Homo sapiens: one gene and its partners. The protein of the gene in region 1 purifies or fractionates together with the protein of each later gene. This does not show direct contact. Each region holds a gene or a part of one and is shown in the gene's direction. Other genes may lie near its edges.

Region 1 (5,262 bases):
ATTGTGGGTAACTATTAGAAGTGAAATTACTGGCACAAAAGATCAAATATTAATTTTTTTTTTTGAGACGAAGTCTCACTCTGTCGCCCAGACTGGAGTGCAATGGCGTGATCTCGGCTCACTGCAACCTCTGCCTCTCGGGTTCAAGCAATTCTCCTGCCTCAGCCTACCGAGTAGCTGGGATTACAGGCGCCCACCACCACGCCCAGCTAGTTTTGGTATTTTTAGTAGAGATGGGGTTTCACCATCCTGGTCAGGCTGGTCTTGAACTCCTGACCTCAGGTGATCCACCCGCCTCAGCTTCCCAAAGCGCTGGGATTACAGGTGTGAGCCACCGTGCCTGGCCGATATTTTTATTTTTAAATAATTTACAAAGTTGATCTTCAGAAAAATTTCACCAACATATTCAATAAGAGCAGGGGAGAGTGCATGTGTCCCCAGTCCTTCAACAAATCTGTTAAAAATTTTCATGTAATCTAATCTATCAGCATTTGTCTCTTTGTTGTACAGTCACACTGCGTATCGATTGGTCAACGACAACGGACAGCATAGAATACGATAGGCTATAGTATGTAGCCTAGGAGTGTAGTAGGCTATACCATATAGATTTGTATAACTACACTCTACGATGTTCGCACCACCACGAAATTGCCTGATGCATTTCTCAGAACATATCCCCGTTATTAAGTGGCACGTGACTATAAAGGCCTTCCACACCAAAAGCTTATGTGGAGATAAACGGAGTCTACCCATAAGAGAACAAACAAGTGCTACTTATTCACAGCTTTTTTATAGCAAGGAAGTCAAGCCACCATCATTTGAGTCTGGCAGAGATTCAAAGACAGGCAGGGGAGTGGGAAAGCTTTATAGTGGAAAACAAAAACACAAAGACTTCAGCTACGCTCTGATTGGATGTTGTTGACGTGAGGAAGCTAGAGGCAGGCCAACTAGAGGCAAGCATCCTATGTGATTGAATATGGGTTCATATTTGGGTTTTTCTTGTTTGTCATCAGGTCAAAAAAATTAAAAAGGCCAGAAAGGCTAGCAAATTGATTAAAGTCCTGAACATTTCTGCAGATGCTATACTTTGGCTTTTTGAGCTGCTTGCAGCAAAGGTTGTGGGTCACAGTTCTATTTTCGTATGTGGTCTGGTCATTGTATATTCAGTTTCTCACTTAAGATAAATTAATCGTTGTTTTATTTTGCTTCAAATATAACTTTATTTTTTATTCATTTGAAAATTTATGTTTGTACATGTCAGGAAAAAGGGACAATTTCATTTATTTTGGAAAATTTTTCTTAAGTTTTTTCTAAAGGGCAATATTCTATTCTTTATACAGTACTTAAGTTCACATTCATACGATTTTATCGGGTGGGTCTACGTTATTTCAGTGGAATTTAAGAGCAACATTATCAAGACTCCTCTTCTGGACCGCCCAACTCATTAAAAAAAAAACTGTGATTTTCATTAAGATTCTTTCTTTGATTAATTTCTTAACAAGAAAAAAAGGACAAAAGGGCCCAGGGAGGTAAGAGGGTACCTGCTGGAGAGGTGGTGGGTGGCTGGAAGCGGCTGGCTAGGAGGCGGGGCGTGGGGCGGTGGAACTCCTGGGCTGCGGCATTCACGTGATCTGCACGGGCGCAGATGTAGGCACCGGTCCGAGTGCCTGCCCTCTGTCCCCGCGGCTGGGTCTCGTCTGCTCCGGTTCCTGGGCTCCTAATTCTTGGTCCAGCTTCTTCCAGGTCAGTGTGCGGGCCTTCCACGCTGCCAGCGGAACACTGGAATGGCGGAAGGGGAACGGGTACGGCAGGGGGAAAGGCTGGGGGTGGGGTCGGGTCGAGTCGAGGGAAGCTGGCCCGAGTGTGGACAGAGATGGCGGTGGGAAAACGGCTAGGGGTGGCTGAGGGGGAGCACGTAGGCAGTGGGCAGAGGGTGAGGAAGGCGAGCACCCCCAAGTATCCATGCTCGCTTTCCAGGCACATCCTCTTCTCTGCCCTCCGTCCATTTTGGAGCCGGAGATGGTGGGCTGGGGCCGCCCCAGTAGTGAGACAGTGGAAGTAAACCCCATCTGCCGTTCCCGTGCGTAGAGAAAAACGTTGACCGCGAGGCTGGGGAGGAGAGTTGCCTCTGAGGAAGAAGGGCACAGAGACCCAAAATTAGTTTGGAAAGCATCCTGATTTGGTGCCCGAGGCCTGGAAAGAAATGGCGGCTGGGGTGCGGCGGAGGTAGGGGAGGAAAACGTTGGATGAGAAGGGCCTGGACTCAGGAAAGGGAACCGCGTCCGTGTGAGCCCGCTGAGCGCGCAGACCCTGCCCCTGTCTCCTGTCTGTCTGCAGGTCTGCGCGTCTGTTGTTCCCAGCGCTCTGCGAAGCCTGAAAAGGAGGAGCAACCTGTCCAGAATCCCCGCAGGTCCGTGAAAGTACGGGGCTGCATGGACAGGGGCCCACAAGGGTTGAGAGTGTGGAGGGCCCGGCCAGGGCCGAATTGGGGCCTTTCCCATTCCCCCACCCACATGAACACACACCTTACCAGGCTGAACCAGTGCAGAGAAAGTGGCAGAGCCTGTCAGGCAATGGCTGGCTCACGTGTGTGGGAGGAGTGGCGGGCTACGTGGTGGGCAGAAGGCCCTCTTGGAGGCCTGGCCAGCTTAGGGGAACCCTCATCAGGGGTGAGATGCAAGTACTATCCAGACCTGCATTCCACCCCATGCACTCAGTCTCCCATGTCTCCTCTTTGTCTCCTCTTTCCTCCACCCCCATCCCCCAGGACAGGAAAAGGAGGGGAAATCTCGACATGGAAAAACTCTACAGTGAAAATGAAGGAATGGCTTCAAACCAAGGAAAGATGGAAAATGAAGAACAGCCACAAGACGAGAGAAAGCCAGAAGTAACTTGTACTCTGGAAGACAAGAAGTTAGAAAACGAGGGAAAGACAGAAAACAAGGGCAAAACAGGAGATGAGGAAATGTTAAAGGATAAAGGAAAGCCAGAGAGTGAGGGAGAGGCAAAAGAAGGAAAGTCAGAGAGGGAGGGAGAGTCAGAGATGGAGGGAGGATCAGAGAGAGAGGGAAAACCAGAGATAGAGGGAAAGCCAGAGAGTGAAGGAGAGCCAGGGAGTGAAACAAGGGCTGCAGGAAAGCGCCCAGCTGAGGATGATGTACCCAGGAAAGCCAAAAGAAAAACTAATAAGGGGCTGGCTCATTACCTCAAGGAGTATAAAGAGGCCATACATGATATGAATTTCAGCAATGAGGACATGATAAGAGAATTTGACAATATGGCTAAGGTGCAGGATGAGAAGAGAAAAAGCAAACAGAAATTGGGGGCGTTTTTGTGGATGCAAAGAAATTTACAGGACCCCTTCTACCCTAGAGGTCCAAGGGAATTCAGGGGTGGCTGCAGGGCCCCACGAAGGGACATTGAAGACATTCCTTATGTGTAGTGTCCCTGGCAGGCATTTACCAGGCCATGTGCTTTAACGTTACGGTAATACTTTACTTTAGGCATCCCTCCTGTTGCTAGCAGCCTTTTGACCTATCTGCAATGCAGTGTTCTCAGTAGGAAATGTTCATCTGTTACATGGAAAAAATGTTGATGGTGCATTGTAAAATTAAAAAACACAACTTGCAGAACCAAATATATGGCATCAGTACATTTTTGTAAAACTACAAAGATACTTACCTAGTAATATAGTATAGAAAACAATTCTGAAAGCTGTGTCCACTAAAAGATTAACAGTGGTTATCTCTGGGTGATTTTTTCTGTTCTTTTTTGTTCATCTGTCCATTTTTCTCCTAAAAACAGATTTCTTTAGTCATAAAAATAATAAAATATAAAGTATTGGAAAACAGTGAATATTTGAATTTCATTCATTTGAATAAGCATTCAAATGAACTGCCCAGTGAACTTATAAAGACAGTGGATATACTTAAAATTCTTGTGAGGACATAAAATGATAGGTAAAAGTTGCATTACCTCTGGGACTGGAAGCTGGAGGAGTCAACTCGATGGTTATTACAGAGCCATTGCTGTAAGGGACAGCCTTGACATCTGTGAAATGGGGATAAAATTAGCCTAGACATGTGGAGAAGATCAAATGAGGTATTGAGTGTGTGAGCTGTGTTAGGCTGGCTCCTACTCTCTCCCCTTGCACTAGCAGAACCAGTGCCCAGTCAGATACTTGGGAAGGGCTGAAGGAGGGTCTCACCTGTGCCCAGAAATAAGTCCAGACAGCTGAGAGATGGGTGCCACTCTTCCTGGGTAATGCCATACTTGAAAGGTAGTGTGCCCCTTCTCATGGATCCTGCACCCTCCTAAGGCCCCAGCTGCTGCTGGTGGGCTGAAGACCATGATGGACTAAGCAACACTGTCCCAACAGAAAAGTGGAGAATTCCCTCTCTACCTACAATAGAATTATCCTAACTCAGGTTGTTAGTACCCAATTGTCACTTGGGCCTTGATGTTTTATGAAGTTTTTACAAAACACTGCTTTCCATGTTTTTTGTTGATTTGTGTATATTTTTGCATATAGCCGTTTCCACCGGATTTAGATAGTGGAGATTGAGCCAGGAGGAAAAGCTGAGTGACGAGATGGTGTGCTATTCTCATTTGTTAATCTCTAGTCTGCTAACACTTTTTTCTTAGGAATTGTCTCCCAGGAAATTTCTGTTAAGCCCTGCTTTACTATTTCAACAGACCCATCTACCTATGTGATTTTTTCCCCCTGGCTCTTGAGTAGCTTTTTATTTCCTTACAGTATTTTTTTTTAATAAACTTTTAGGATGGTTTTAGATCTACACAATTATTGCAAAGATAGTACAGAGTATCCCATATGCACTGTCCCCTATTATTAACATCTTACATTAGTATGGTACATTTGTCACTGTTAACCAATATTGATACATTATTATTAACTAAAGTACGTACTTTATTTGGATTTCCCTTAATGTCCTTTTTCTGTTCCAGGATCCCATTCAGGTTACATTTAGTCGTCATGTCTCCATAGGCTCCACTTAGCTGTGAGAGTTTTTCAGACTTTGCCTGTTTTTGATGACCTTGACACTTCTACGAAGTATTGGTCAGGTATTTTGTATAATGTCCCAAAACTTGGGTTTGCTTGTCTTGTGATTACACAGGCATTATGTGTTTTGGGAAGAAGACCAGAGGTAAAATGCCATTCTCATCATATAAAGGGGACATACCATCAATATATTTACCACTGTTCTTATCCTTGGTAACCTGACTGAAGTAGTGTTTGTCAGG
Region 2 (4,902 bases), on another chromosome or scaffold:
GCAAGTGTGAACCACTGCACCCGGCCCAGAAGTACTTTTTGCATACTGGGTAGTCCTAAAGGCAATGGGTGGTCAGAAAAAGCTTTTTTTAAAAAAACTCTTTTTTCTTTTTTATTAAAAAAAAAATTATAGGGCTGGGTGTGGTGGCTCACGCCTGTAATCCCAGCAGTTTGGGAGGCCGAGGCGGGTGGATCACGAGGTCACGAGTTCAAGACCAGCCTGGCCAGGATGGTGAAACCGTCTCTACTAAAAATACAGAAATTAGCCGGGTGCGGTGGCGGGCGCCTGTAATCCCAGCTACACAGGAGGCTGAGGCAGGAGAATCGCTTGAACCCAGGAAGTGGAGGTTGCAGTGAGTCAAGACCATGCCATTGCACTCTAGCCTGGGCAACAGAGCGAGACTCCATCTCAAAAAAAAAAAAAAAAAAGTATAAAATAGAGATGGGGTCTTGCTATGTTGCCCAAGCTGGTCTTGAATCCCTGGGCTCAAACATCCTCCCACCTCAGCCTCCCCAAGTGCTAAGATTACAGGTGTGAGCCACCACACCTGGCCCGGAAAAGCTTTTTGAGCTGAGGTCTTGGGGGAGAGTGTTCTAGAAAGATGCAAAGGCCTAAGGCAATAGTCACCAACTTTTTGGCTCCAGGGACCGGTTTTGTGGAAGACAATTTTTCCACAGATGGAGGCAGGGAGGTGGTCTTGGGATAATTCAAGCACGTTAATCTTTATTATGTACTTTATATCTAATACGTTGTAACATAGAATGAAATAATTCTACAACTCATCATCATGGGGAACCAGTGGGAGCCCTGAGCTTGTTCCTGCAACTAGACGGTCCCAGCTGGGGGTGATGAGAGACAGTGACAGATCATCAGGCATTCGATTTTCATAAGGAGGGTGCAACCTAGATCCCTCACACGCCAGGTTCACAATAGGGTTCGCGCTCCTGTAAGAATCGAATGCCGCCGCTGATCTGACGGAAGCGGGGTTCGGGTGGTCCTGCAAGTGACGGGGAGCGGCTGTAAATACACTCACTGCAGCTCACCTGCTGTACGGTTCAGTTCCTGACAGGCCACGCCCCGGGGGTTAAGGACCCCCGGCCTAAGGACGGTCTATCATATAATTCACCTCGGCCGGGTACAGTGGCTCACGCCTGTAATCCCAGCACTTTGGGTGGCTGAGGCGGCCGGATCATGAAGTCAGGAGATCGAGACCATCCTGGCTAACACGGTGAAACCCCATCTCTACTAAAACCACAAAAAATTAGCCTGGTGTTGTGGCACACTCCTGTAATCCCAGCTACTCAGGAGGCTGAGGTGGGAGAATCACTTGAACCCGGGAGGCAGAGGTTGCAGTGAGCTGGGATTGCGCCACTGCACTACAGCCTGGGTGACAGAGCGAGACTCCATCTCAAAAAAAAAAAAAAAAGAATTCACCTCTCGAAGGGCACCTGGCAGAAGCTGGGCTCATAGGAGGTCTTCCGTGTGTGGGGGACTGCTGGTCCCTGGCTTCCCTGGGGCCCCATCCTCCTCCTCATAGAGTTGGGGACCCACTCCTCCTGTCCCCACAGAGGTGTGCTTGAAGGACCCCATGTCTGTGGCGGACAGCCTGTACAACCTCCAGCTCGTGCAGGATTTCTGTGCCTCTCGCCTTCCTCGTGGCTGCCCCCTGTCCCTTGAGGACTTGCTGTACGTCCCACCGCCACTCAAGGTAAGGCCATCCTGGGGCCTCCTGGGCCGAGGCGGGCATCTGGGGCCAGGGGTCCCGTCTGCTGACCCGGCCTCCCACCTCCAGGTCAACTTGGTGGTGATGCTGGCCGAGTTGTTCATGTGTTTTGAGGTGCTCAAGCCCGACTTTGTGCAAGTGAAGGACTTGCCCGATGGTCACGGTGAGGCCCTGGGGGCCTGGGGGCCGGGTCGGGGGCGGGTGGGAGAGCCAAACCCCCGCCTGACCCTCTTCTCTGTACTGCAGCTGCCTCCCCCCGGGGCACTGAGGCCTCCCCACCTCAGAACAACAGCGGCAGTAGGTACGCTCCCCACACTGGGCGAGTCTCTGGCATTGTGGGTGTGGGGCTCCATGTCTGCCTTGCTGAGCACTGGGACGCAGCTGGGTGATGCTGTTGTCTCCCCCCGGGGAGAGGCGGAGGAGGAGGTGGGGGTCCTGAGGCTGAAGTACGTCTCTCCGTACAGTTCTCCTGTCTTCACCTTCCGCCACCCGCTTCTGTCATCTGGTGGCCCCCAGTCCCCACTCCGAGGATCCACAGGTGAGGAGGGGGTAGGTGGCTTCTGTCACGGGGGACCCCCCCACTCACAGACTGCCCCAGTGGGCCTCATGTTGTCTCCTCGTGAGCCTTCCAATAGCCTCTCCATCAGATCCCCCTTGGGCATCCCAAAGTGACCCCCAGAATGGCCTCCCCAGTGGCCCCACAGTACCCCGTAGTGACAGTAAATGGCCCCGGGTATCTGTTTCTGGAAACCTCTGGTCTCACTAGACCACATAATGAGCCATCAGTGACTCACCCAATGACCTTGCAGAGGTTGTCCCCAGATGCTGGCTGACCCCACTCAGGGTTCCCAGGGTCCCCATAGTGACCACTCATCGCCTCCCCCAGGCTCCCTGAAGTCTTCCCCGTCCATGTCCCATATGGAGGCCCTGGGCAAGGCCTGGAACCGGCAGCTCAGGTGAGTAGACCTCACAGGCCAGGGTAGGGGGTGGAGCAGGCTAGGGCGGGTTGGGGCCGAGGCTGGTCCCAGGGGCTGACCCCTCCCTCCGGCCGCCCAGCCGTCCCCTCTCCCAGGCTGTGTCATTCAGCACCCCCTTTGGCCTGGACAGCGACGTGGATGTCGTCATGGGAGACCCTGTGCTCCTCCGCTCTGTGAGCTCGGACAGCCTGGGCCCCCCGCGTCCCGCGCCGGCCAGGACCCCCACCCAGCCACCCCCGGAGCCTGGTGACCTGCCCACCATCGAGGAAGCTCTGCAGATCATCCACAGTGCCGAGCCCCGGCTCCTCCCAGATGGGGCGGCCGACGGCAGCTTCTACCTCCACTCCCCTGAGGGGCCCTCCAAGCCATCCCTGGCCTCCCCCTACCTGCCCGAGGGGACCTCCAAACCACTGTCCGACAGGCCCACCAAAGCACCAGTGTACATGCCACACCCCGAGACCCCCTCGAAACCATCTCCCTGTCTGGTGGGGGAGGCATCGAAACCGCCAGCCCCATCCGAGGGGTCCCCGAAGGCGGTGGCTTCGTCCCCAGCAGCCACCAACTCCGAGGTGAAAATGACCAGCTTTGCAGAACGCAAGAAACAGCTGGTGAAGGCAGAGGCTGAGGCCGGAGCGGGGTCCCCCACGTCCACTCCGGCCCCGCCGGAGGCCCTGAGCTCGGAGATGAGTGAGCTCAGCGCCCGGCTGGAGGAGAAACGCAGAGCCATCGAGGCTCAGAAGCGACGGATTGAGGCCATATTCGCCAAGCACCGCCAGCGGCTGGGCAAAAGCGCCTTCCTGCAGGTGCAGCCGCGGGAAGCCTCTGGGGAGGCGGAAGCAGAGGCGGAGGAGGCCGATTCCGGTCCAGTCCCTGGTGGGGAGCGGCCCGCAGGCGAGGGCCAGGGTGAGCCAACCTCACGGCCCAAGGCAGTGACCTTCTCGCCAGACCTGGGCCCGGTGCCCCACGAGGGGCTGGGGGAATACAATCGAGCGGTCAGCAAGCTGAGTGCCGCCTTGAGCTCGCTGCAGCGGGACATGCAGAGGCTCACGGACCAGCAGCAGCGGCTCCTGGCCCCGCCCGAGGCCCCCGGATCCGCCCCACCACCTGCTGCGTGGGTCATCCCTGGCCCCACGACGGGGCCCAAAGCTGCATCCCCCAGCCCCGCCCGGCGAGTCCCGGCCACCCGGCGCAGCCCTGGGCCCGGGCCCAGCCAGTCACCCCGCAGCCCGAAACACACGCGGCCAGCGGAGCTGCGGCTGGCACCCTTGACCAGGGTGCTTACGCCACCCCACGACGTAGACAGCCTCCCCCACCTGCGCAAGTTCTCGCCGAGCCAGGTGCCCGTGCAGACGCGCTCTTCCATCCTCCTGGCGGAGGAGACGCCCCCCGAGGAGCCAGCCGCCCGGCCGGGCCTCATCGAGATCCCGCTGGGCAGCCTGGCAGATCCCGCCGCCGAGGACGAGGGAGACGGGAGCCCCGCTGGTGCTGAGGATTCCTTGGAGGAGGAGGCGTCTTCGGAGGGGGAGCCCCGGGTGGGGCTGGGGTTCTTCTACAAGGTGAGTCCCCGAGCAGGTGGCTGGAGGGTCCTGGGCCTGGGGCGGGGGCGGGTGGGGGCGGGGGGAGGTGGACAAACCCACTATTGGATGAATAGGGCTTTACTGAAGGATGGGTGGGCGGGTGGGGGATAGATGGGGAGCCAGGTATGAATGGACAGAACAGGTGTGAGTGGCTGGGTAAGGCCTCCATGGGTGGGAGAGGGGGGAAAGGGACATTTGCACGGTGGGGGGCAGGTATGTGGGGTGACAGGGGCCTCAGATGGGATTTGACCCTGTCTGTTGGGTAAGGACTTCCACAAGGGGCTGTGGGGGTGCAGTGGGGTGAGAGGTCCTCCCCCTGTGGCTTAATGAGTGAGGCCCTCGGGTATGTTTGGGGGTGAGGGGTTTCCAGTGGGGGCTGACCCAGTCATGTCCCTCCCAAACAAGGTATGGGTGGCCGGACAAGGGGGATAGATAGATGTGGGGAGGGGTGGAGAAACAGGGAGGAGTCATGGATAGACAGATGGATGAATGGCTGGTTGCATGGGTGGGTGGGTGATGGACAGATAGACGGACAGGACCAGGATCTTCAGCGCACCTCCTTGCTCATCCTCTCCTTCACCCCCTCGCCCCCAGCACGCTCCTACCACCCCTTTCCTGGCCCTGC
Region 3 (4,902 bases), on another chromosome or scaffold:
GATCATCATGGCCCAGATCATCGTTGCCATCCAGATGGTGCTAGAGGAGAAGTTCGTCTACAAACACAATGTGCACCCACTGCGGGCAGTTGGCACTGAGGGTGTGTGTGGGCACAGGGGCCTGGAAGGAGTGGGGTAGAAGGGAGCCTGGGGAGCTGAGCACAGGACAAGGTGCCAGGGTTCACTTGTGGGGGGTGAACTTCCTGCCCCGCCTTGCCTTCCAGATGTGTTTTGACAAGTCTTCTGACACCTGCTGTGTCAGGAACTAGAGGAGACCAAGGACAGAGATGAATGAGATGCAAGCCCTTCAGAGGAGGTGACCAGCAGGAAGAAAGGGCAGTCAGTGAATTCAAGTTTGGACCACTTGTGCTCAACTGATGTCTCATTGGCCATGCCTATCTGAGTCTCTCAGGGCAGGGAGGGTGGCATTCGAGCTGCAAATTTCAACAGGCAGTAGTAGGAGCAGCTCCAAACAGAGCAAAGGCACAGGGGACTGGATGTGAATTTGAAAACCAGTGAGGAATAATTTTGAGTGTGGCCAGGTGCGGTGGCTCATACCTGTAATCCCAGCACTTTTGAGAGACCAAAGCGGGTGGATCACTTGAGGTCAGGAGTTTGAAACCAGCCTGCCCAACATGGCAAAACCGTCTCTACAAAAAATACAAAAATTAGCTGGGCGTGGTGGCGCATGCCTGTAGTCCCAGCTACTCAGGAGACTGAGACAGGAGAATCGCCTGAACTGGGGGAGCAGAGGCTGCAGCAAGCCGAGATTGCGCCACCGCACTCCAGCCTGGGCAACAGAACGAGACTCCATCTCAAAAAATAATAATTTGAGTGCAGTATAGGTTTGATGTTGGGGAAATAATCAGGAATTAAGTAGGTCAGGGTCATGTCATTAGAGAACTTTACCATCAGGCAAGTAGATTTAGACTTTAAATGACGGAGGAATCACTGAAAGTTTTTGAGCAGGGAAGTAAGTATCAAAATTATGAGATTAGCAAGATACAGCTGCGCTTTCAAAGAATGTCCTGGGGGCTAGTGCCTGTTGGGGAGCAGCTCTTGTCTGGCCCCCGGTGAGCTAAGGGACTTAGGCAGAATGTGAATTAGCTATATCACTGAGCATGCAGTCTATTTCCACTCATTTCTGTTTTCTAGCAAGACCTTAATGAGTGAAGCAGTGCATGGACTTACCTTCTGGCGCAAGCTCCTTGTCACAGACCAGTAACACACTGAACTAGAAAGCTGTGTTTTTCCAAACTTGTGAAAATAATGTAGTCAGTTGCAGCTGGCAGTTCTTTTTTTAAATGAATAGAATTTTTAAATATCAGAGCATTGTATACTGTAAGGGTAATGTTTTTATGAGTGTGTGTGTGTGTGTGTGTCCATGAACCTGTGCACACGTGTACTGGGTCACAATATAAAATGTATTTCTTACTCTTGATCCAGTCAAAAAAACCCTGAGTAAAAGTGGAGAAGGGACAGCTAGAACCCATCTAATAGGCCACAAGCTCCTGATGAGAGACTGAGGGACGTGAAAGGAGGGAGCTGGCATGAGGACCACTGGGAGGGAATGACCCGAGATCAGAGGAGGCTAAGCCGGTGGGCTGTGCTGGGGGTCTGGGGGAAGGTGGAGAGTGTAACTGTTTCCTCTACTCCCCAGGCCTCTTTGGCTTTGTGATCCTCTCCCTGCTGCTGGTGCCCATGTACTACATCCCCGCCGGCTCCTTCAGCGGAAACCCTCGTGGGACACTGGAGGATGCATTGGACGCCTTCTGCCAGGTGGGCCAGCAGCCGCTCATTGCCGTGGCACTGCTGGGCAACATCAGCAGCATTGCCTTCTTCAACTTCGCAGGCATCAGCGTCACCAAGGAACTGAGCGCCACCACCCGCATGGTGTTGGACAGCTTGCGCACCGTTGTCATCTGGGCACTGAGCCTGGCACTGGGCTGGGAGGCCTTCCATGCACTGCAGATCCTTGGCTTCCTCATACTCCTTATAGGCACTGCCCTCTACAATGGGCTACACCGTCCGCTGCTGGGCCGCCTGTCCAGGGGCCGGCCCCTGGCAGAGGAGAGCGAGCAGGAGAGACTGCTGGGTGGCACCCGCACTCCCATCAATGATGCCAGCTGAGGTTCCCTGGAGGCTTCTACTGCCACCCGGGTGCTCCTTCTCCCTGAGACTGAGGCCACACAGGCTGGTGGGCCCCGAATGCCCTATCCCCAAGGCCTCACCCTGTCCCCTCCCTGCAGAACCCCCAGGGCAGCTGCTGCCACAGAAGATAACAACACCCAAGTCCTCTTTTTCTCACTACCACCTGCAGGGTGGTGTTACCCAGCCCCCACAAGCCTGAGTGCAGTGGCAGACCTCAGCTCTCTGGACCCCTCCTACAGCACTAGAGCTAAATCATGAAGTTGAATTGTAGGAATTTACCACCGTAGTGTATCTGAATCATAAACTAGATTATCATAGTTATCTAGTTTATGAGTCATAAGCTAGATTTGATTCTTCAAAGAAGAAAAGTCAGTGAGCAAATTTAAACCAGAACTAAGCATTATATTTTCTTTTTTTTTTTTTGAGACAGAGTCTCGCTCTGTCGCCCAGGCTGGAGTGCAGTGGCACGATCTCGGCGGCTCACTACAACCTCTGCCTCCCAGGTTCAAATGATTCTCCTGCCTCAGCCTCCCGAGTAGCTGGGATTACAGGTGCATAACACACCTGGGTAACTTTTATAGAGATGGGGTTTCACCATGTTGGCCAGGCTGGTCTCAAACTCCTGACCTCAGGTGATCTGCCTGCCTCGGCCTCCCAAAGTGCTGGGATTACAGGCGTGAGACACCACACCCAGCCATAACTAAGCATTATGTTTTCTAAAACTTCTAAGATCCTCCCTAAACCCGTCTGGAGACATGGGTTTTAGCCCAGACTCTGCCTCAAACTCATTGTAGCTCCCAGCACATTACCCAGTTGCTCTGGGCCTTGGTGTTATGCTCTGGGAAGTAGATGTTGATGCTGTGGCCTTAGTGCCTTCTGGCCCCAGCATTCCATGGGCCTGTGATCTTGACCAACCTGAGAAAACAGTAACAGCCCATCCACTGGAAATACCCCTCTGCCCACAGCACCACCCTTCTGTGCTGTTTTTTTTGTTGTTTGTTTGTTTCTTCTTTTTGAGACAGAGTCTTGCTCTGTTGCCACGCTGGAGTGCAGTGGTGTGATCTCGGCTCACTGCAACCTCCCGCTCCCAGGTTCAAGCAAGTCCCCTGAGTAGCTGGGACTACAGGCGTGTGCCACCACATCCGGCTAATTTTTTGCATTCTTTAATAGAGACGGGGTTTTGCCATGTTGGCCAGGATGGTCTCAATCTCCTGACCTCATGATCCACCTGCCTCAGCCTCCCAAAGTGCTGGGGTTACAGGCATGAGCCACCACGCCCAGCCTTTTTTTTTTTTTTTTTTTTTTCTTGAGAGACAGGGTCTTGCTCTGTCACCCAGGCACAGCTTACTGCAGCCTTGAACTCCTGGGATCAATCAGTCCTCCTGCCTCAGCCTCCCGAGTAGCTAAGACTAACAGGTATGTACCACCATGCCTGGTTTATTGTTTTATTTTTTTGGCAGAGATGGGTCTCACTGTGTTGCCCAGGCTGATCTCAAACTCCTGGCCTCAAGCGATCCTCCCATCTCAGCCTCCCAAAGTGCTGGGATTACAGACCTGAGCCACCACACCTGGGCAACAGAGTGAAACCTGTCCCTGTTTTCCTGCTCTTACTCTCACCTCTGAGGCCTCCTCTGCCTGGAAGAGATTACAGGGAAATTCCAGGCAGCCCTTGTCAATTGTTTTTATGAATTCTTTACCTGTTCCTTTTAAAGACAAGGAAACTGAGGCCCAAAGTTCTAAGTTGTTTGGCAAATGGAGTCTCCTACCCTCAGCTCCTGCAAGGACCTGGGGGACCCCCAGGTCCAGCAGCCACATGATTCTGCAGCAGACAGGGACCTAGAGCACATCTGGATCTCAGCCCCACCCCTGGCAACCTGCCTGCCTAGAGAACTCCCAAGATGACAGACTAAGTAGGATTCTGCCATTTAGAATAATTCTGGTATCCTGGGCGTTGCGTTAAGTTGCTTAACTTTCATTCTGTCTTACGATAGTCTTCAGAGGTGGGAACAGATGAAGAAACCATGCCCCAGAGAAGGTTAAGTGACTTCCTCTTTATGGAGCCAGTGTTCCAACCTAGGTTTGCCTGATACCAGACCTGTGGCCCCACCTCCCATGCAGGTCTCTGTGGGGTCTTTGGGATGGATCTCCTAGGGCTGGGCTGGAAGCCTCATGTACTGTTGTCTTCTAGGTAACCACCCTGAAGAGAAGGGGTGGCATCAGGAACCGCAGGGAACCAAGCAGCCTTTGGTCCAGTGCTGCTCCTTGGAACAGTTGAGTGTGGCCTCAAACCATTCTCCTGGGTAGCTCAGTCATAAAACACCGAATGCCTGCCTCAAAATAGCCTCTGAGGGAAGGGAGCTGTTGACAAGTGAAGCCCTCAGGTTGTGTGGGATTCCAGCAGGTTATTACAGCTTGTGGGGGGAGGGAGGGTCCATTCCACCAGCTTTGAATCCCAGGGTCCCCTCAGCTTCACTGGGCCACAGTGTCTGTCCCAGGAAGAAGCAAATGGACAGTGAGGATGATGGAGAGACTACAGCTGCCTTGTCTAAAACCTGGGATCTTAAAAGTGTTATTTTGGCTTTTATTTTTTAAAAAAAGAAAAGGAAAATTGGCAATTGTATTAATCCATTCTCGAATTGCTGTAAAGAAATACCTGAGACTGGGTAATTTAATTTATAAAGAAAAGAGGTTTAATTGGCTCACAGTTCTGCAGGCTATACAGGAAGCATAGTAGCTTCTGCTTCTGGGGAG
Region 4 (4,902 bases), on another chromosome or scaffold:
GGCTGCCACACCATTTCTTTTTATTTAAAACATTTCTTGAGGCTCACGGATTCCTCAAATCAGCAAGCACTTAATGTTTTAGGTGTTTTGCCATACAGTTTTCTTATCTCATTATACCTCTTAAGCAATAGAATAGTCTCCTTCTAAAGGAGAAATGGGGACCAAAGGAATACAGAATAGTTAAGTAGCAGAGCTGAAATTTGAACCCACTGTTCTGTGCTCTTTGAGCATGGCCAAATCCTATATACAGATAGGTCAAGTGAGAAAGTAACGTTTCACTTAGGTCCGTCGATTAGGTCCTTGGTGACCTTTATAAGAGCAGCTTCAGTGGAGTGATGAGGGAAAAGCCAGACTGAAGTGGATTGAAAAGTGAGAAGTGATTAAGTGAAGGTGGTATGCCTTGACTATTTTAAAAACCTTGGCTGTGATGGGAAGGGGAAGAGAGTTGATAGCTGGAATGTAGTGCCAGATTGCGGGAAGGTTTGTTGTTTTGTTTTGTTCTAGATACTAGAGACAATTTATGGAGAAGGAACCTGTGGAGAAAGGAGCATCTGAAAATGTAGTCTGTTCTTAATATCCATGAGGCATTGGTTCCAGGATCCCCCTCAGATACCAAAATTTGAGTATTCAAGTCCCTGATATAAAATGGCATAGTATTTGCATATAACCTATGCACGTATACTTTAAATCATCTGTAGATTACTTATAATACCTAATACAATGTAAGTGCTATGTAAATAGTTGTTATACTTTATTGTTTAGGGAATAGTGGAAAGAAAGAATAGTCTATACATGTTCAGTATAGTTGCAATTTTTTTCTGAATATTTTCAGTCCATGGTTGGTTGAATCCGTGATGCAGAACCAACCAGATATGGAGGATTGACTATATATGTAAAAGATTGAGATTAACCTTGAATTGTGGAGGGACAGAGGTTTGTCTGTTACCAACAGGAAAGAGGATAATAGGTAAGGATGCTGATGACTTTATAGAGGGTTGGTGGGAAACAGTTCTTTCTTGGTGCCTTAATGTTTTCTGAATTAAAGAAGATTGAAATAAGATAACTCTACTGTTATTTATTTATTTATTTTTGAGCTGCTGTTACGCACCAGACGGTCACTGTGTTTGCCTCACATGCATGTCCTCTTTTACACCTCTAATAACCCTCATGCAGTATAGGTAAAGATGGCCCCATTTTACGGGCAAGGGAACAGACTCAGCAAGGTTAAGTTACTTGATGAAATCACAAGCCCGCAAGTTGCATGTCTGTATTAAGTCTAGGGTTGACGGTCTTTTCTATTACATTATATACTTTGTCTGCTGAGTGAGAAGGGGCTGAGGTAGATGTCTGGAAGGCAGGTGGAGTGGTTTTGTCATTCAAGTTCCATCTCCTTTCTCCTCTCCCTGTGGCAGTCAGCTCCTCCCTTCCTGGTTACTCTGACATACTCATGATTTACCAAAGAATTAAGTAGCCAGTTTTCTTCTTAACAAGTTCTGCCACTATTCCAGCTGACTTTTTTTTTAATCCATCTGACTTCTGTTTCTGTGTCATTTGGGCTGCACTCCCATGGTTACACCTTCGAAATGGTCTTCTGACAGAATTGTTTCATCACTAAAATCTTAGATTCTAGTGTTACTTCTTATTTTCTTAGAAACCTAGCCTGAGACCTCTTGGAGCCCTTCTGGTTGCTGGACCTTTCCTTTTTGCTTGGTCAGTTAACCCTATTTACCCTCACTTCCTTCCCTGGATCCCTACTGCCCATCATTTCACCCCCTGCTTGTGGTGCCATTTTGTTTTCCTGACTGTTCTGCAACTTTCTTCCCTCTCCCATCCTAGGCCATTAAAAACACCTGACTTTTTTTAAGTTTGTTGAGAGCTGTTGAAATTTAAAGGTATTCTCAACAATGTGGTTTTTGCCTTAATTGTTACTGAAACTCAGTTGTGCCTTCAAGTTTATCAAAACTAGACCAATTCTACACCCTTACATACAGGATAGCAACAGTTTGTCCACATCTCAGGTATGGCAGTATCAGTTTAAGCCATATTGTTCATTTATCTCAGCATGTATATGACTGTTTAGAAATTGTGTTTACATAAGATCCCTCTGAGCCATTTTAGTGCCTGTGGTAATTTTGGTTCTTCCATTGGTTAGGAACGGGATTTTCCAACAGAAACCATTAAATTTGGTCCTGAACGCATGTATATTGATTGCTGGGTAAAAAAACACACCTATGACACCTTTAAGGAGGTTCTTGGATCAGGGATGCAGTACCACTTGCAGGTAAGTGTCATCCTTTCTACATATTTGCTTTTAAAGTAGGGAGCAGTCTTGAATATAGCTCACTTAATTGGCTTTTGAAATTAATTAGGTATCCAGAGTGCTTCCACATGTTAGAAAACAGTAAACTTGTTTTTGAAAGTAGACTTGAATAAATCTGAAGCTGTTCCTTTTTTTTTCTTTGTATTGTTAAAGTTGGGTGGACGGTTACTGATGTCTGTATGAAAGCAAATAGCTTGACATAGCTGTCTTGGATTCAAGGCATTGAAAACAATTTGCTTTCTATTGAGAAACAGAAAATAAGTGATCTAAGTTTATCTGTGGGTTCCACATAACTTCTGTTAATCAGAGTCACTCTGTCTAGTGAAAAAGAGCTATAATGTTTAATACTGAGCCATACCACCTTTTTCTTTCACATAAGTCAAATGAATTCCTTCGAAATGTATTTGAACTTGGACCCCCAGTGATGCTTGATGCTGCAACGCTTAAAACGATGAAGATTTCTCGTTTCGAAAGGGTAGGTTTTGTTTTTATTTTTAATAAAACTAAGTGCGCCAAAGCTTTGATTCTGTCTAGTGTCAGCAACTTAGCTGTGTCTACCTATATGTGGAGTTTTAGTTTTTCATGATGCTTCACATAGAATAGCTGTACTAAAGATACAGAAAGCATTTAGAGTGTGGGGGGCGTGTGTGTGTGTGTGTGTGTGTGTGTGTGTGTGTGTGTATATATGTGTCAGCCTGGGTGACACGAGTGGGACCTTGTCTCAAAAGCAAAACAGAGAAAAGAATATTGCTGCTTGTTTGCCCATTAGGTGTATTTCTTTCATTTTATGAAACATATTTTGACAACACGTTAAAATTTAATATGTACATATATATTTTACGTATAATTCTATCTTAATATAGGAACGGTGTTCATTATTTGTTTCTTTTTATTCTTTGGAGTTTTTATGTTTAAGAATAAGTATTTACATAGTCCTTTTGTATCAGATAATAGCCTGCTAAGTGAAGTACCAGACTCGTTTTACAAATGAGGAAACTTAAGAGAGTTAAATAGTAATTAATATCATTTTTACTTAACATTTCTTTTTTTTTTTTTGAGATGGAATCTTGCTCTGTCACTCAGACTGGAGTGCAGTGGTGCAATCTCGGCTCACTGCAACCTCTGCCTCCCAGGTTCAAGTGATTATCCTGCCTCAGCCTCCTGAATAGCTGAGATTACAGGTGTGCATTACCACACCTGGCTAGTTTTTGTATTTTTAGTAGAGACAGGGTTTTGCCATGTTGGCCAGGCTAGTCTCGAACTCCTGACCTCAGGTGATCCACCCACTTTGGCCTCCCAAAGTGCTGGGATTACAGGCATGAGCCACCATGACCAGCCTGCATTTCAAAAATCCTTAATTTATGTATTTTTTTTTGTGCTGAGATGAAATTCATATAACAGACTATTTTAAAGTATACAGTTCAGTGGCACTTATTACATTCATGATGTTGTACAACTCTAGTTCCAAAACATTATCACCTCAAAAGAAAACCTTCTGTTCATTAGCAGTCACTTCCCTTGTGCTACCCCCCGCCACTGGCAACCGCTAATCTGCTGTCTCTGGATTTACTTTTTCTGGAGATTTCATACAAATGGAGTTATATAGCATGCAACCTTTTGTGTCTGGCTTTTTTCATTTAGCATAATGCTTTGGAGGTTCATTCATGTTGTAGCATGAATTCAGAGAGCTTTATTCTTTTTTGTGGCAGAATAATATTCCATTGTATGGATATATATCACATTTTGTTTATCCATTTTAACAGTTGATGGACATTTGGGCTGTTTGCATCTTTTGGCCGTTGTGAATAGTGTTGCTCTGAACATTCACATACAAAATTTTTTTTGAAAGGCTCTTTGCAATTTTGGGAGGTATTACCTAGGAGTGGAATTGTGCTGGGTCAGATGATAGTTTTACATTTAACTTTCTCAGAAACCACCAAACTCTTTTCCATAGCTGCTGCACCAGTTTACATTCTCATCAGCAATGTAGAAAGAAAGGTTCCAGTTTCTCCACATCCTCACTAATAATTATTTTAATTATAGCCATTCTGGTGGGTGTGAAGTGTTTAATTACATTTTATAGAACCTGGATATTTTATCAGTTTTATATCCACATAATTGTTTCTTGTACGGCATTTTAAGTTTTTTTTAAGAAACATTAATATTTTTACATACTTCTCTCTTTTGAATAATTTTTTTGAAGAAATCCCCTGCATAATGTATTGCCAAATTACTTTCCAAAGTTACTCTTATATTGGAGACGATATTTAAATTGTCTCCAGCAATGAATGAAGGCATGTAGCTGTTACACAAAGATTTGACACCATTGAGTTTTATAATTTAAAAAATGTGTTTATTTAATTGATATTAAAATGGCACTTCATCACTTTTTTCCTTGTTCTAATTGACAGCCAAGTAGGACTATTTTCTGCATTAGTCATGATTTGTCTTTTCTTGGATGAAACAATGTTGATGTCCATTTTTCACTGTTGGTTTTTGAAATCGTCTAACTTTCTTGGCGTTTTACAATTTGATTAGTACTTTTCTTAATATGGAATAGCCATTAACTCTTTATTTATTTA
Region 5 (4,517 bases), on another chromosome or scaffold:
ACTATACGTATGTGCATAAAGGTTTTTGTGTGAACGTACGTTTTCATTTCCCTTGAGTAAATACGTAAGAGTGGAAATGCAGGTCATACGGTAGGTGTATGTTGAACTTTTTTTTTTTTTTTTGAGATGGAGTTTTGCTCTTGTCACCCAGGCTGGAGTACAATGGTGCGATCTTGGCTCACCGCAACCTCCACCTCCTGGGTTCAAGGGAATCTCCTCCCTCAGCCCCCCCAGTAGCTGGGATTACAGGTATGTGTCACCACGCCCAGCTAATTTTTTTTGTTTTTGTATTTTTAGTAGAGACAGGGTTTCTCCATGTTGGTCGGGCTGGTCTTGAACTCCTGACCTCAGGTGATCTGCCCGTCTTGGCCTCCCAAAGTATGCTGAACTTTTTAAGAAACTGCCACACCATTTTCCAAAGTGCTGGTGTCATTTGCCATTCCCACCAGCTGTGCATGGGATTTCCAATTTCTCCACTTCCTTGTCAGCACTTGGTAAGGGTGGGCCTTAATTTCGGTCATTCTAATAGGTAGGTGTACAGAAATATCTTGTGATTTTAACTGGCATTTTCCTAATGAGTAATAATGCTGAATACCTTTTCATGTGTTTATGTGCCATCCATCTATCTTCTTTGGTGAAGTGATTCTTCAAAGCTTTTGCCCATTAAAAAAAAAAATTGGCTTGTTTCTCCTATTACTGGGTTTTGAGAGTTCTGTATTAAATATATGATTTGTAAGTATTTTCTCCCAGTCTATGGCTTGTCTTTTCATTCTCTTTGTAGTAAATAGCGTCTTTGGAAGGACAAAAGTTCCTAAATGTGATGAAATCCAGTTTATCAATTTGTTCTTTTGTGGGTCAGACTTCTAATGTTCTAAGGAAACTTTGCCTTCGTGGTTTCTCCTAGGTGTTCTTTTAGAAGTCTTATGGTTTCAGGTTTTACATTTATTTCTGTGATCCATTTTAAGTTAATTTTTTGTAAGGTGTGAGGTATGGGCTAAGGTTCTTTTTTTGGTATATGGACATCCAATTGTTCTTTGCTATTTGTTGTAAAGACTGTCCTTTCTCCATTTAATTATTTTTCGACCTTGTCAAAGAGCAAATGACACTTTTTTTGTGTGTGGGCCTATTTCTGGACTTTCTGTTCCATGGATCTATGTTTGTGACTATTCCCTTTTTTTTCTTTTTGAGATGGAGTCTCACTCTGTCGCCTAGTCTGGAGTGCAGTGGCACAATCTTGGCTCACTGCAACATCCGCCTCCCGGTTTCAAGCGATTCTTGTGTCTCAGCCTCCCAAGTAGCTGGGATTACAGGCGCACTACCACACCAGCTAATTTTTGTACTTCTAGTAGAGATGGGGTTTCATCATGTTGGCCAGGCTGGTCTTGAACTCCTGACCTCAGGTGATCTGGCCGCCTTGGCCTCCCAAAGTGCTGAGATTACATGCGTGAACCACCGTGCCTGGCCTTGACTATTCTTTTACCAGTACCTCCCACATTGTCTTGGCTACTGTAGCTTTTGAGTAAGTCTGAACATCAGGTAGTGACCATACCTACCTTTTCAGCAGGGGGGCTGCTGTTCTCCCCACTTTACAGATGAAGAAACTAACCACAATCATGGAGTCTTCCTGATAGTCTCCCTTATCATCAGGTGTTAGATGCTTAGCTCATGTTTAACACCTAATGCCTGGTGCCTCGCATGCTTGATGCTCAGGACATCGCCTTTGCAGTCTGGGTTGGGTTTGACTCTTAGCTCTGTTTTTGTTAGTTGTATACCCCTAGGAAAGTAATCTTACCCCCTGTGCCTCAGTTTCTTCATCTGTAAAGTGGACGTCACCTGCCTTATACATCGTGGCAAATATTAAATGAGTCCATGTATCAAGTGAAACCATGTGAAATTGCTGATCTCTGACCATTTTCACAGACACAAATGACAGTTTTACCTAGTCCAACCTAACATGCAAAGCATTCCTTGTAGTACTGGAGAAAGAGTAGGTTCTCCAGAAAATGGTCCCTGTAGCTGCTGCCATGCTCACTAATACAATGCCTGCTTCTGCTGCTGTTGCTATGACATTGTTATTACTGAAGGTGGTGGCTCTGAGGCTGATGTTTCATGTTCCTTGTGCCCTCTAATCAGGCAGCCAGTGTCTACAAGGACTTCCCAAGTGGCAAGCTTCTTGCTGAGTCTGCCAAGAGTAATCCAACCCTTTGCAGAGTTGGATTGTGGGGCAGAAGTGCTCACCTAGCAGGATACATGTGTGTGCAAAGTGCAGTGGGAGAAGCTGAGTGGGCAGGAGGGGTGGGGGCCACTTCCTGGATGTGGCCCATTAAGGGAGCCTGGTAGGATGGTTGGGAATTTGGGATGGGGGGAGTGTTCCAGGCACAGGTAATGGCTTGTGTAAAGGCTTGGAAGGGGCAGTGGACAAGCTTCAGGGGGAGCCTGAGGTTTGACTGTTGGGTAGAGGGGGAAGCTGCTTATGGTGGCCTAGGCTGCCTGCACAACTAACCCCATCCTTTGCTTCCGCAGGTCCCACCCACCTCTGCCTCCGCCATGGCTGCAAGAACCGTTATCATTGACCACGGGTCTGGCTTTTTGAAGGCTGGCACGGCCGGCTGGAATGAGCCTCAGATGGTCTTCCCGAACATCGTGAACTACCTACCGTGCAAGGAGAACCCTGGCCCCAGCTATGCCCGTAGGCGTGTGAGCCTGGGCATCGACATTTGCCATCCTGACACCTTTAGCTACCCCATCGAGCGGGGCCGCATCCTCAACTGGGAGGGTGTGCAGTACCTCTGGTCATTTGTGTTGGAGAACCACAGACGGGAGCAAGAGGTCCCCCCTGTGATCATCACGGAGACACCCTTGAGGGAGCCTGCGGACCGAAAGAAGATGCTGGAGGTGAGGCCTGCCGGGGCCTGCTCCCACTCGGGAGCGGGAAACAGACTGACACTATGTCTGGACTGATTGGGCACCAGGAATTCTGCTTTTTAAGATAAATTGCCAACCAGGTGTGGTGGCTTATGCCTGTAATCCCAACACTTTGGGACTCCCAGGCAGGCAGATTGCTTGAGCCCAGGAGTTCAGGACCAGCCTGGGCAATATAGTGAGACCCCTGTCTCTATAAAAAATACAAAAATTAGCCAGGTGTGGTCCCAGCTACCTGGGAGGCTGAGGTGGGAGGATCAGTTGAGCCCGGGAGGTCGAGAATAGAGTGAGCTGAGATCACGACACTGCACTCTAGCCTGGGCAACAGAGCAAGGCCCTGTCTCAAAAAAACAAACAAACAAAAAAACCCAACAGAAACCAACAAATTGCCCCACAAACATTTCCCAAGAACCTAGTGAATGCCTGGTGTGCCACTAAGCAGGGGAGCTCACGGAGGCCCCACCTGCAGACGGACATGCAGCAACCAACGTGCTTGGTGGAAAGGGGGTTACCAGGGAGACGTGGAATATTTGCTTATGGATTCCATAATTGCTGATACAGGCCATGTTCTGGCCCTCAGAGAGCTTCCATGAAGGGGTTAAGAAATAATTCCAGGTAGTGATGAGTTCTAGAACCATAATGAAATGGGATCATGGTGGACTGTTGGGGGTGGGGAACCTGTTTGAAGAGAGCGCTCAGGAAGGGCTTCTCTGACGGAGGTGATTTCAGCAGCAAGAGCGGCAAGAGGCAAATAGGATGGTGAGGTTGGAGGAGGCTGGGCCTTGTAGGCCTGGTAGGCTGTGGGGAGTGCTTGGATTCTACTTTAAATCAAGGATTGGCAACCCAGTGAGCCAAATCCGGCCCACCACCTATTTTGTAAATAAAGTTTTATTGGAACATAGCCACACACATTCATTTATATGTTATGTAAGATAGAAAGAGAGAGGAAAGAAAAAAGAACATATGCTCATTGCCTGGTAGGTAAAGCCCTATTATTATTTTTTAAATAAAAACTTTCCAAACATGAAGACAAAACAGGAATTCTGATATTTAGGGTTTGGCAGAGTGTGCTTTCATACGACAGCATCTGAGTTAAGTTGTTGCAGCAGAGACTGTTTGAGACCATACATCAAGTTAAAGGCTAAAATATTTACTATTGTAGGTTTACTAGGTAAAATACGTGATGCCTAGTTAGACTTGAGTTTCAGATAAATTACAAATAATGTCTTAGTATTTAAGTATGTTTCATATTGCATGGGGCATACTTACACTACAATATTATTTATTATTGATCTGACATTCACATGTAACTGGGCATCCTGTAGTTTTATTTGCTGAATTTGGCAACCCTTACTGTCTATCCCTTTACAGAAAATGCTTGCCAGCCACTGCTCTAAGTGAATAGGAAGTTCCTGGGGAGTTTTAAATGGAGAGTTTTAAATGGGGGAGTTGTATCTGATTTTCTATTTGAAAAAGAGGACCTTGGCTGCTATTTTGAGAAATGGCTGGTGGGGGGACAATTTTCTGAGAGTAGTAATGGAGGGAGCCCCCTCCCACTGAGGGGAGACGATGGGCTTGTGGGGGCTTGAAGAGGT
Region 6 (4,902 bases), on another chromosome or scaffold:
TGAGGCCAAGCCGGGTTTACCAGCAAAGAACTTACTCAGTGGGAAAAATAAAAAGTCTACTAAGAATTTAAAATGTGGCCTTTGGCTATGACAGTGCCACCTTTGCAAAGCTTAAAACGGAAAGGGAGCAGCAGGCCCTACCCGGTACAGTATTTCTGAATCTTCATCACTGATACTAATTCAGAGAACCAGAAAATGTGTGTCTCTGTGCTCATTCATATGCTTGCTTCTCAGATGGCCTGGCACGCCTACCTTCTGATCAGATACTTTAGTTTTGGGATTTTCCTTGAATAAAAAAGGAAAATATCAAGAAAAGATTGTAAAAATTACTTTACTATAGTTGATTTTTTACCAAATTGTTTAGGATAAAGAAATAAGCAATAAATTTGTACCCTTTGATTCTTAGCCAGATTAGGATCTTGATGAGAACAAGAGGCATTGATTGTTCTTGAAAGCATCATTCCAGGTTTGTTGAAAGTGGGATACTGAGGTGAGAAGGGGCCAGTTAGCACGCACCAGAGACAAAGCTTGGGCCTTCAGGGGAGTATGGGTTCTTGGCTCTGTTAGTATGTAGAAGGATTTGTAGCATTTTAAATTGATGAACTTGATCTGGGTCTTCAAAAATATTTTTAGGTTAGTACTATCATAAGTTTCAAATAGACTCTCAAACGTATTTTTTTCATCTAGGTATTTTTGCAGTGTTGAAGGAAAAGTGCGGACAAATTCATAAAGCTTTACAAGGGTGAGTTTTATATATTTTCAACCAACATAAAGTTTATCTGCACCACACTTAACAACTAATGGAAAGTTTTAAATTTCTAGGCTTGGGTCAGTTTGACCAGATTGCAGCTAAGAAACCAAAAACTTAGTTCACTCACATTGGTTTATTTGTGTAAAACCAGATCATCTGTTTTAAAGAATCGTGACTTTGTTTTTCTGAAAATGAAACAAACTCATTAATAAAATATTACAGCAGTACAGAAGATAGAAAGATGAAAATAACAACCCAACATCTTACCACCAGAAATAACCAGGGTAAACACTGAAGCATCTCTCCATGTCTGCACACACAGGGATGCCATTATATATTATGTAATTAGATGACTGGGTTCATACCATCTGTGTTACTTTTTAATAAATTACTAAGTTTTAACACAAGAAAAAGAAACAAGTGAAATTTTATCAGTGTTTTTTTTTTTTTTTTTTTTTTTTTTTTACTACACAAGAGTCACTTTTTTTTTTTTTATTATACTTTAAGTTTTAGGGTACATATGCACATTGTGAGGTTAGTTACATATGTATACATGTGCCATGCTGGTGTGCTGCACCCACTAACTTGTCATCTAGAAGAGTCACTCTTTAAGATTCCTCTGTAGTTAAAAAAAAAAAAAAATGGAGGTTGGTGATATCTCCAGGCACATTTCTGGTCTTATATAAAGTGATTTCACATTGCCCGAGGTCTTTCTTTTTGCCTTTCCTAAGGTTAAACATGCTTTCTTGGTCATGAAAGTCCTATCTGTGTTCCGGATATGGAAACTGGAGACTTAACTGAAAGAAAAGGACAATTGATAAATGAGTACATCACAGCTGTTCCAGATAAAGAAGGGGCAGAGACATTAAAGTTCTGGGTGTGTCTGTGTGATAGTAACAGCAGTTCTTGCATGATTTATGGTAGAGAGATATATTTGTATTGGTTCCAGTTCCATTGGTTTGTGAAATATTAATATGCCAACACAGCCTAGCATATTGGAGTCACTGGAAATGCATCAGTGCTAGCCTTACATGCCTTTCACTCTATGGTGTTAACCTGCCTTTTTCTAAGTCTAATCTCCACTTACCCCAGCTGTATCACACTTTTTCTTTCCAAAATTCCTAATCCTCTGTCTTCACTCCCCTCACTTTTAGCTAACAGCCTGGCCTTATGCTGTCACTTGGGACTCTGTCATATTTCCTGACAAATCTACACACCTGTGGGTATCTGAACCAGTCTTCCCTCCTGTAGACCAGTAAATGTTGCTCCAACTACCACAGGCCCTTTTTTTAAGGACTGAGTGCCTTTGCTTGTCCCTGCTACTTTGTCATCAGCCTGTCCCCTTTCTTGTGTTATTTGATTAGCAGTCATGTCCACTTTAAATTCCTCTTGCCTGTCACCTGACGTTTCCCTCTGCAACTCCCCATGTCTTTGCTCCTCTCAGTAGCTATCATCTCCACGTCTTCACTTACACTGGCAGCTCTGAGACCTGGCTTCTGCTACTGCCCTTCGCCTGGACTGTTTTTGTGGAGGTCTCCACTGACTGCTGAATCCAGTGGACCATCTTCAGAGCTCATCTTCTTGATGTCCCCATAGTTTTCAGCACAGGTGACCACTCTTTCCTTCTTTGGACTCTGCTACACTGCACGCCTGGATTTCCTTTTACATCTTTGAATGGCTCCATCTCGGTCTCCTCTGAAGGCTTTCTTTCAACACCTTGCTCTTCAAGGCTTTGTCTGTGCTTCTCTTTTCTTCTCATTACCTTCTTGAAGAATTGCCTTCTCCCACACCTGGAGCTCCACATCGTTTCATGACACCTGTATAGAGACAGCTCCCAGCTTCGTATCACCACCCTGGACCACTGCAGCTGCAGGTCTCACACCCAGTTGCCTACTCAGTATCCACAGTTGGAAGACTCCATGGCACCTCACAGTAAACACACATTCATAAGGGTCGCAGGGGCAAACCGTGCTGGTATCTAGATGGTTACAGAGAACAGTAAACAAAATAGCAAAGAGGCCAATGTGACAGGAGGAAAGGAGTGGGAAATCTGGTGGAAGATGAGGGCTGGGTCATGGGCCATCCGCACACAGGGACTTGTGAGCCGTGATGAGGACATTGGCACACAGAGGAAGCCCTGGCATGGTTTTGAGCAAAAAAGTGAAACAGCCTATCTGATACCCTAGCAAAATTACTTTTGCATGGTGTGAAAAAATACATTGAACAGCAGTAAGAACAGAAGCAGGGAGACCAGTTAGGAGATTGACGCAGGTGAAAGGTGATAGTGACTCTGACCATGTTGGGAGCCATGACCTGCGAAGTGTCTGGATTCTGGGTATCTTCTGAAGGGAGAGCACACTGGATCTAGCAGAAGTTCATATGCAGGGTGAGTGAGAAAGAGAAGACTCCAGGTAGAGCTCAGGGGGTTTGGTCAGAGTAAATAGGTAGAGTTGCTAATGAGTGAGAGGGACAGAACTGTGGAGAAATACCTTCTGGGGAAGGTCAGCAGTGGTTATGTTAAGCCCAAAGTGCCCATCAGACATGGAGTGCAGAGCAGCAGCTGGATATACAAGTCTGAAGTGTGAGGGAGAGTACTGAGCTAGAGATAAATGTTTGAGTCTTGGGGTATGGATATTATATGAAGCATTTCAGTGTGAAGAGGTCAGAAACTAGCAAAGACTAGTCTGAGAAAGAGTGGCCAGTGAGGAAGAGGCAGGCTGGAAGAGCCTAGAGTCCTGGAAACCAGGGAAGAAATTGCTTATGTAGGAGGTCAGCCTGTGACATGCCGCTGCTGACAGGCCAGACCAGATAACAGAACACTGATCCTTTGACTTCGTTATGTAGAGGTATTATGACTTGGTGAGTAGTTTCAGGGGAGTGTGGGGTAAAATGCCTGCTTGAAGGAGGTTCCAGACAGGTGGACACGGCCTAGATGACTGTTTTGAGGAGTTTTTCTCTGAAGAGGGACTAAGAAACAAGATGGTGGCTGGAGAAAGAAATTGGTCAAGAGAAGAATATTTCAGTTTAAGATTACTGAGATCAATTTCTGAATAACATCTGGCTAAGTATAAAACATCCTTTCTCCTACTGGTTGACAGTACTGTATCATATACCAGGTTCCCATTTGTACCTAGATCTGTTTTTAAACTGTCTCTTCCATTCCATTGGTATATTTGCTCATTCCTCAGACTCTTTTGATTTTGTCTGTTTTTATCACTGTTTTGGAATACAGGTTTATCACTAGTGTCTGTTTTTATCACTGTTTTGGAATATGGGTTTCTCCAAAATTATTGCTAGAATCTTAATTGGAACTGCATTAAATTTTCTGATGAATGTGGAGGGAAATGTCATCCATGAACATGAGCTCTCTATTTAAATCTCCCTTTGTGTCCTTTAATGGAATTCCTATAAAGCCCTTGTACCTTTATGGAACCTTTAAAGGGAATTTTCAGACATCCTATAGATTTTGTTGCTGTTATGAATGGGGTTGTCTTTTCTGTTATATTTTCTACTTGATTATTGCTGATTCATAAGAATATTATTATTTTCTCTAAACTGACCTTATATCCAGGAGTCTTTCTAAACTCTTAGTATTTCCAGTAATTGTTTCATTGTGTTATGATGATGTGCATGGAAGTCCTGTTATCTGCAATAATGGTGTTCTCTCTTTCCTTCCTAATGCTTTTGCGTCTTAGTTCATTTTCTTATTTTATTGCTTTGGTCTGAGTCCCTAATTTGTATTGAACAGTGGCAATAATAGCAAACATTCCTTCCTTATTCCCAGTATAGAAGCACTTCTTCATTAAGTATAAAACATCATGCTATGGGTTTTTGGTGAGTAGCTTTTATTGAATTATTCCTAGTTTTGTTTTGTTTTGTGGTTTTTTTAAGAGACAGGATTGTGCTATGTTGCCCAGGCTGGAGTGCAGTGGCTATTCACAGATATAGTCAACACACTATAGCCTCAAACTCCTGGACTCAACCAATCCTCCTGCCTTCACCTTCCAACTAGTTGGGACTACAGGCATGTACCTCTGCACCTGGCTAAATGATTCCTAAATTTGAAGGCCTTTTTTTAAAATCATAAATAGACGTTGAACTTTATCCATTTTTTTTACATCTATTAAGGTAAATCATAAATTTGTCTTATG

What was found.
Region 2: the proteins of TCEAL4 (region 1) and CAMSAP3 purify together in Homo sapiens (affinity purification with mass spectrometry; one large-scale study listed by BioGRID and IntAct). This does not show direct contact.
Region 3: the proteins of TCEAL4 (region 1) and SLC35F6 purify together in Homo sapiens (affinity purification with mass spectrometry; one large-scale study listed by BioGRID and IntAct). This does not show direct contact.
Region 4: the proteins of TCEAL4 (region 1) and IFRD1 purify together in Homo sapiens (affinity purification with mass spectrometry; one large-scale study listed by BioGRID and IntAct). This does not show direct contact.
Region 5: the proteins of TCEAL4 (region 1) and ACTL8 purify together in Homo sapiens (affinity purification with mass spectrometry; one large-scale study listed by BioGRID and IntAct). This does not show direct contact.
Region 6: the proteins of TCEAL4 (region 1) and SPTLC1 purify together in Homo sapiens (affinity purification with mass spectrometry; one large-scale study listed by BioGRID and IntAct). This does not show direct contact.

What each region holds. Positions count from the first base shown.
Region 1 is NC_000023.11:103,583,882-103,589,143, forward strand, and holds TCEAL4 (transcription elongation factor A protein-like 4), read left to right. Parts: upstream 1-1,633; 5' UTR 1,634-1,743; coding exon of another isoform or gene 1,744-1,879; intron 1,880-1,977; exon of another isoform or gene 1,978-2,246; coding exon of another isoform or gene 2,247-2,420; intron 2,421-2,767; coding exon of another isoform or gene 2,768-2,794; coding exon 2,795-3,442; 3' UTR 3,443-3,848; downstream 3,849-5,262. UniProt on the Homo sapiens protein: May be involved in transcriptional regulation.
Region 2 is NC_000019.10:7,608,908-7,613,809, forward strand, and holds part of CAMSAP3 (calmodulin-regulated spectrin-associated protein 3), read left to right. Parts: intron 1-1,568; coding exon 1,569-1,708; intron 1,709-1,792; coding exon 1,793-1,886; intron 1,887-1,969; coding exon 1,970-2,024; intron 2,025-2,187; coding exon 2,188-2,261; intron 2,262-2,609; coding exon 2,610-2,679; intron 2,680-2,779; coding exon 2,780-4,256; intron 4,257-4,902. UniProt on the Homo sapiens protein: Key microtubule-organizing protein that specifically binds the minus-end of non-centrosomal microtubules and regulates their dynamics and organization.
Region 3 is NC_000002.12:26,776,382-26,781,283, forward strand, and holds the end of SLC35F6 (solute carrier family 35 member F6 precursor), read left to right. Parts: coding exon 1-101; intron 102-1,660; coding exon 1,661-2,130; 3' UTR 2,131-4,850; downstream 4,851-4,902. UniProt on the Homo sapiens protein: Involved in the maintenance of mitochondrial membrane potential in pancreatic ductal adenocarcinoma (PDAC) cells. Promotes pancreatic ductal adenocarcinoma (PDAC) cell growth. May play a role as a nucleotide-sugar transporter.
Region 4 is NC_000007.14:112,470,067-112,474,968, forward strand, and holds part of IFRD1 (interferon-related developmental regulator 1), read left to right. Parts: intron 1-2,152; coding exon 2,153-2,281; intron 2,282-2,699; coding exon 2,700-2,795; intron 2,796-4,902. UniProt on the Homo sapiens protein: Could play a role in regulating gene activity in the proliferative and/or differentiative pathways induced by NGF. May be an autocrine factor that attenuates or amplifies the initial ligand-induced signal.
Region 5 is NC_000001.11:17,820,462-17,824,978, forward strand, and holds part of ACTL8 (actin-like protein 8), read left to right. Parts: intron 1-2,523; 5' UTR 2,524-2,547; coding exon 2,548-2,895; intron 2,896-4,517.
Region 6 is NC_000009.12:92,041,839-92,046,740, reverse strand, and holds part of SPTLC1 (serine palmitoyltransferase 1), read left to right. Parts: intron 1-687; coding exon 688-742; intron 743-4,902. UniProt on the Homo sapiens protein: Component of the serine palmitoyltransferase multisubunit enzyme (SPT) that catalyzes the initial and rate-limiting step in sphingolipid biosynthesis by condensing L-serine and activated acyl-CoA (most commonly palmitoyl-CoA) to form long-chain bases.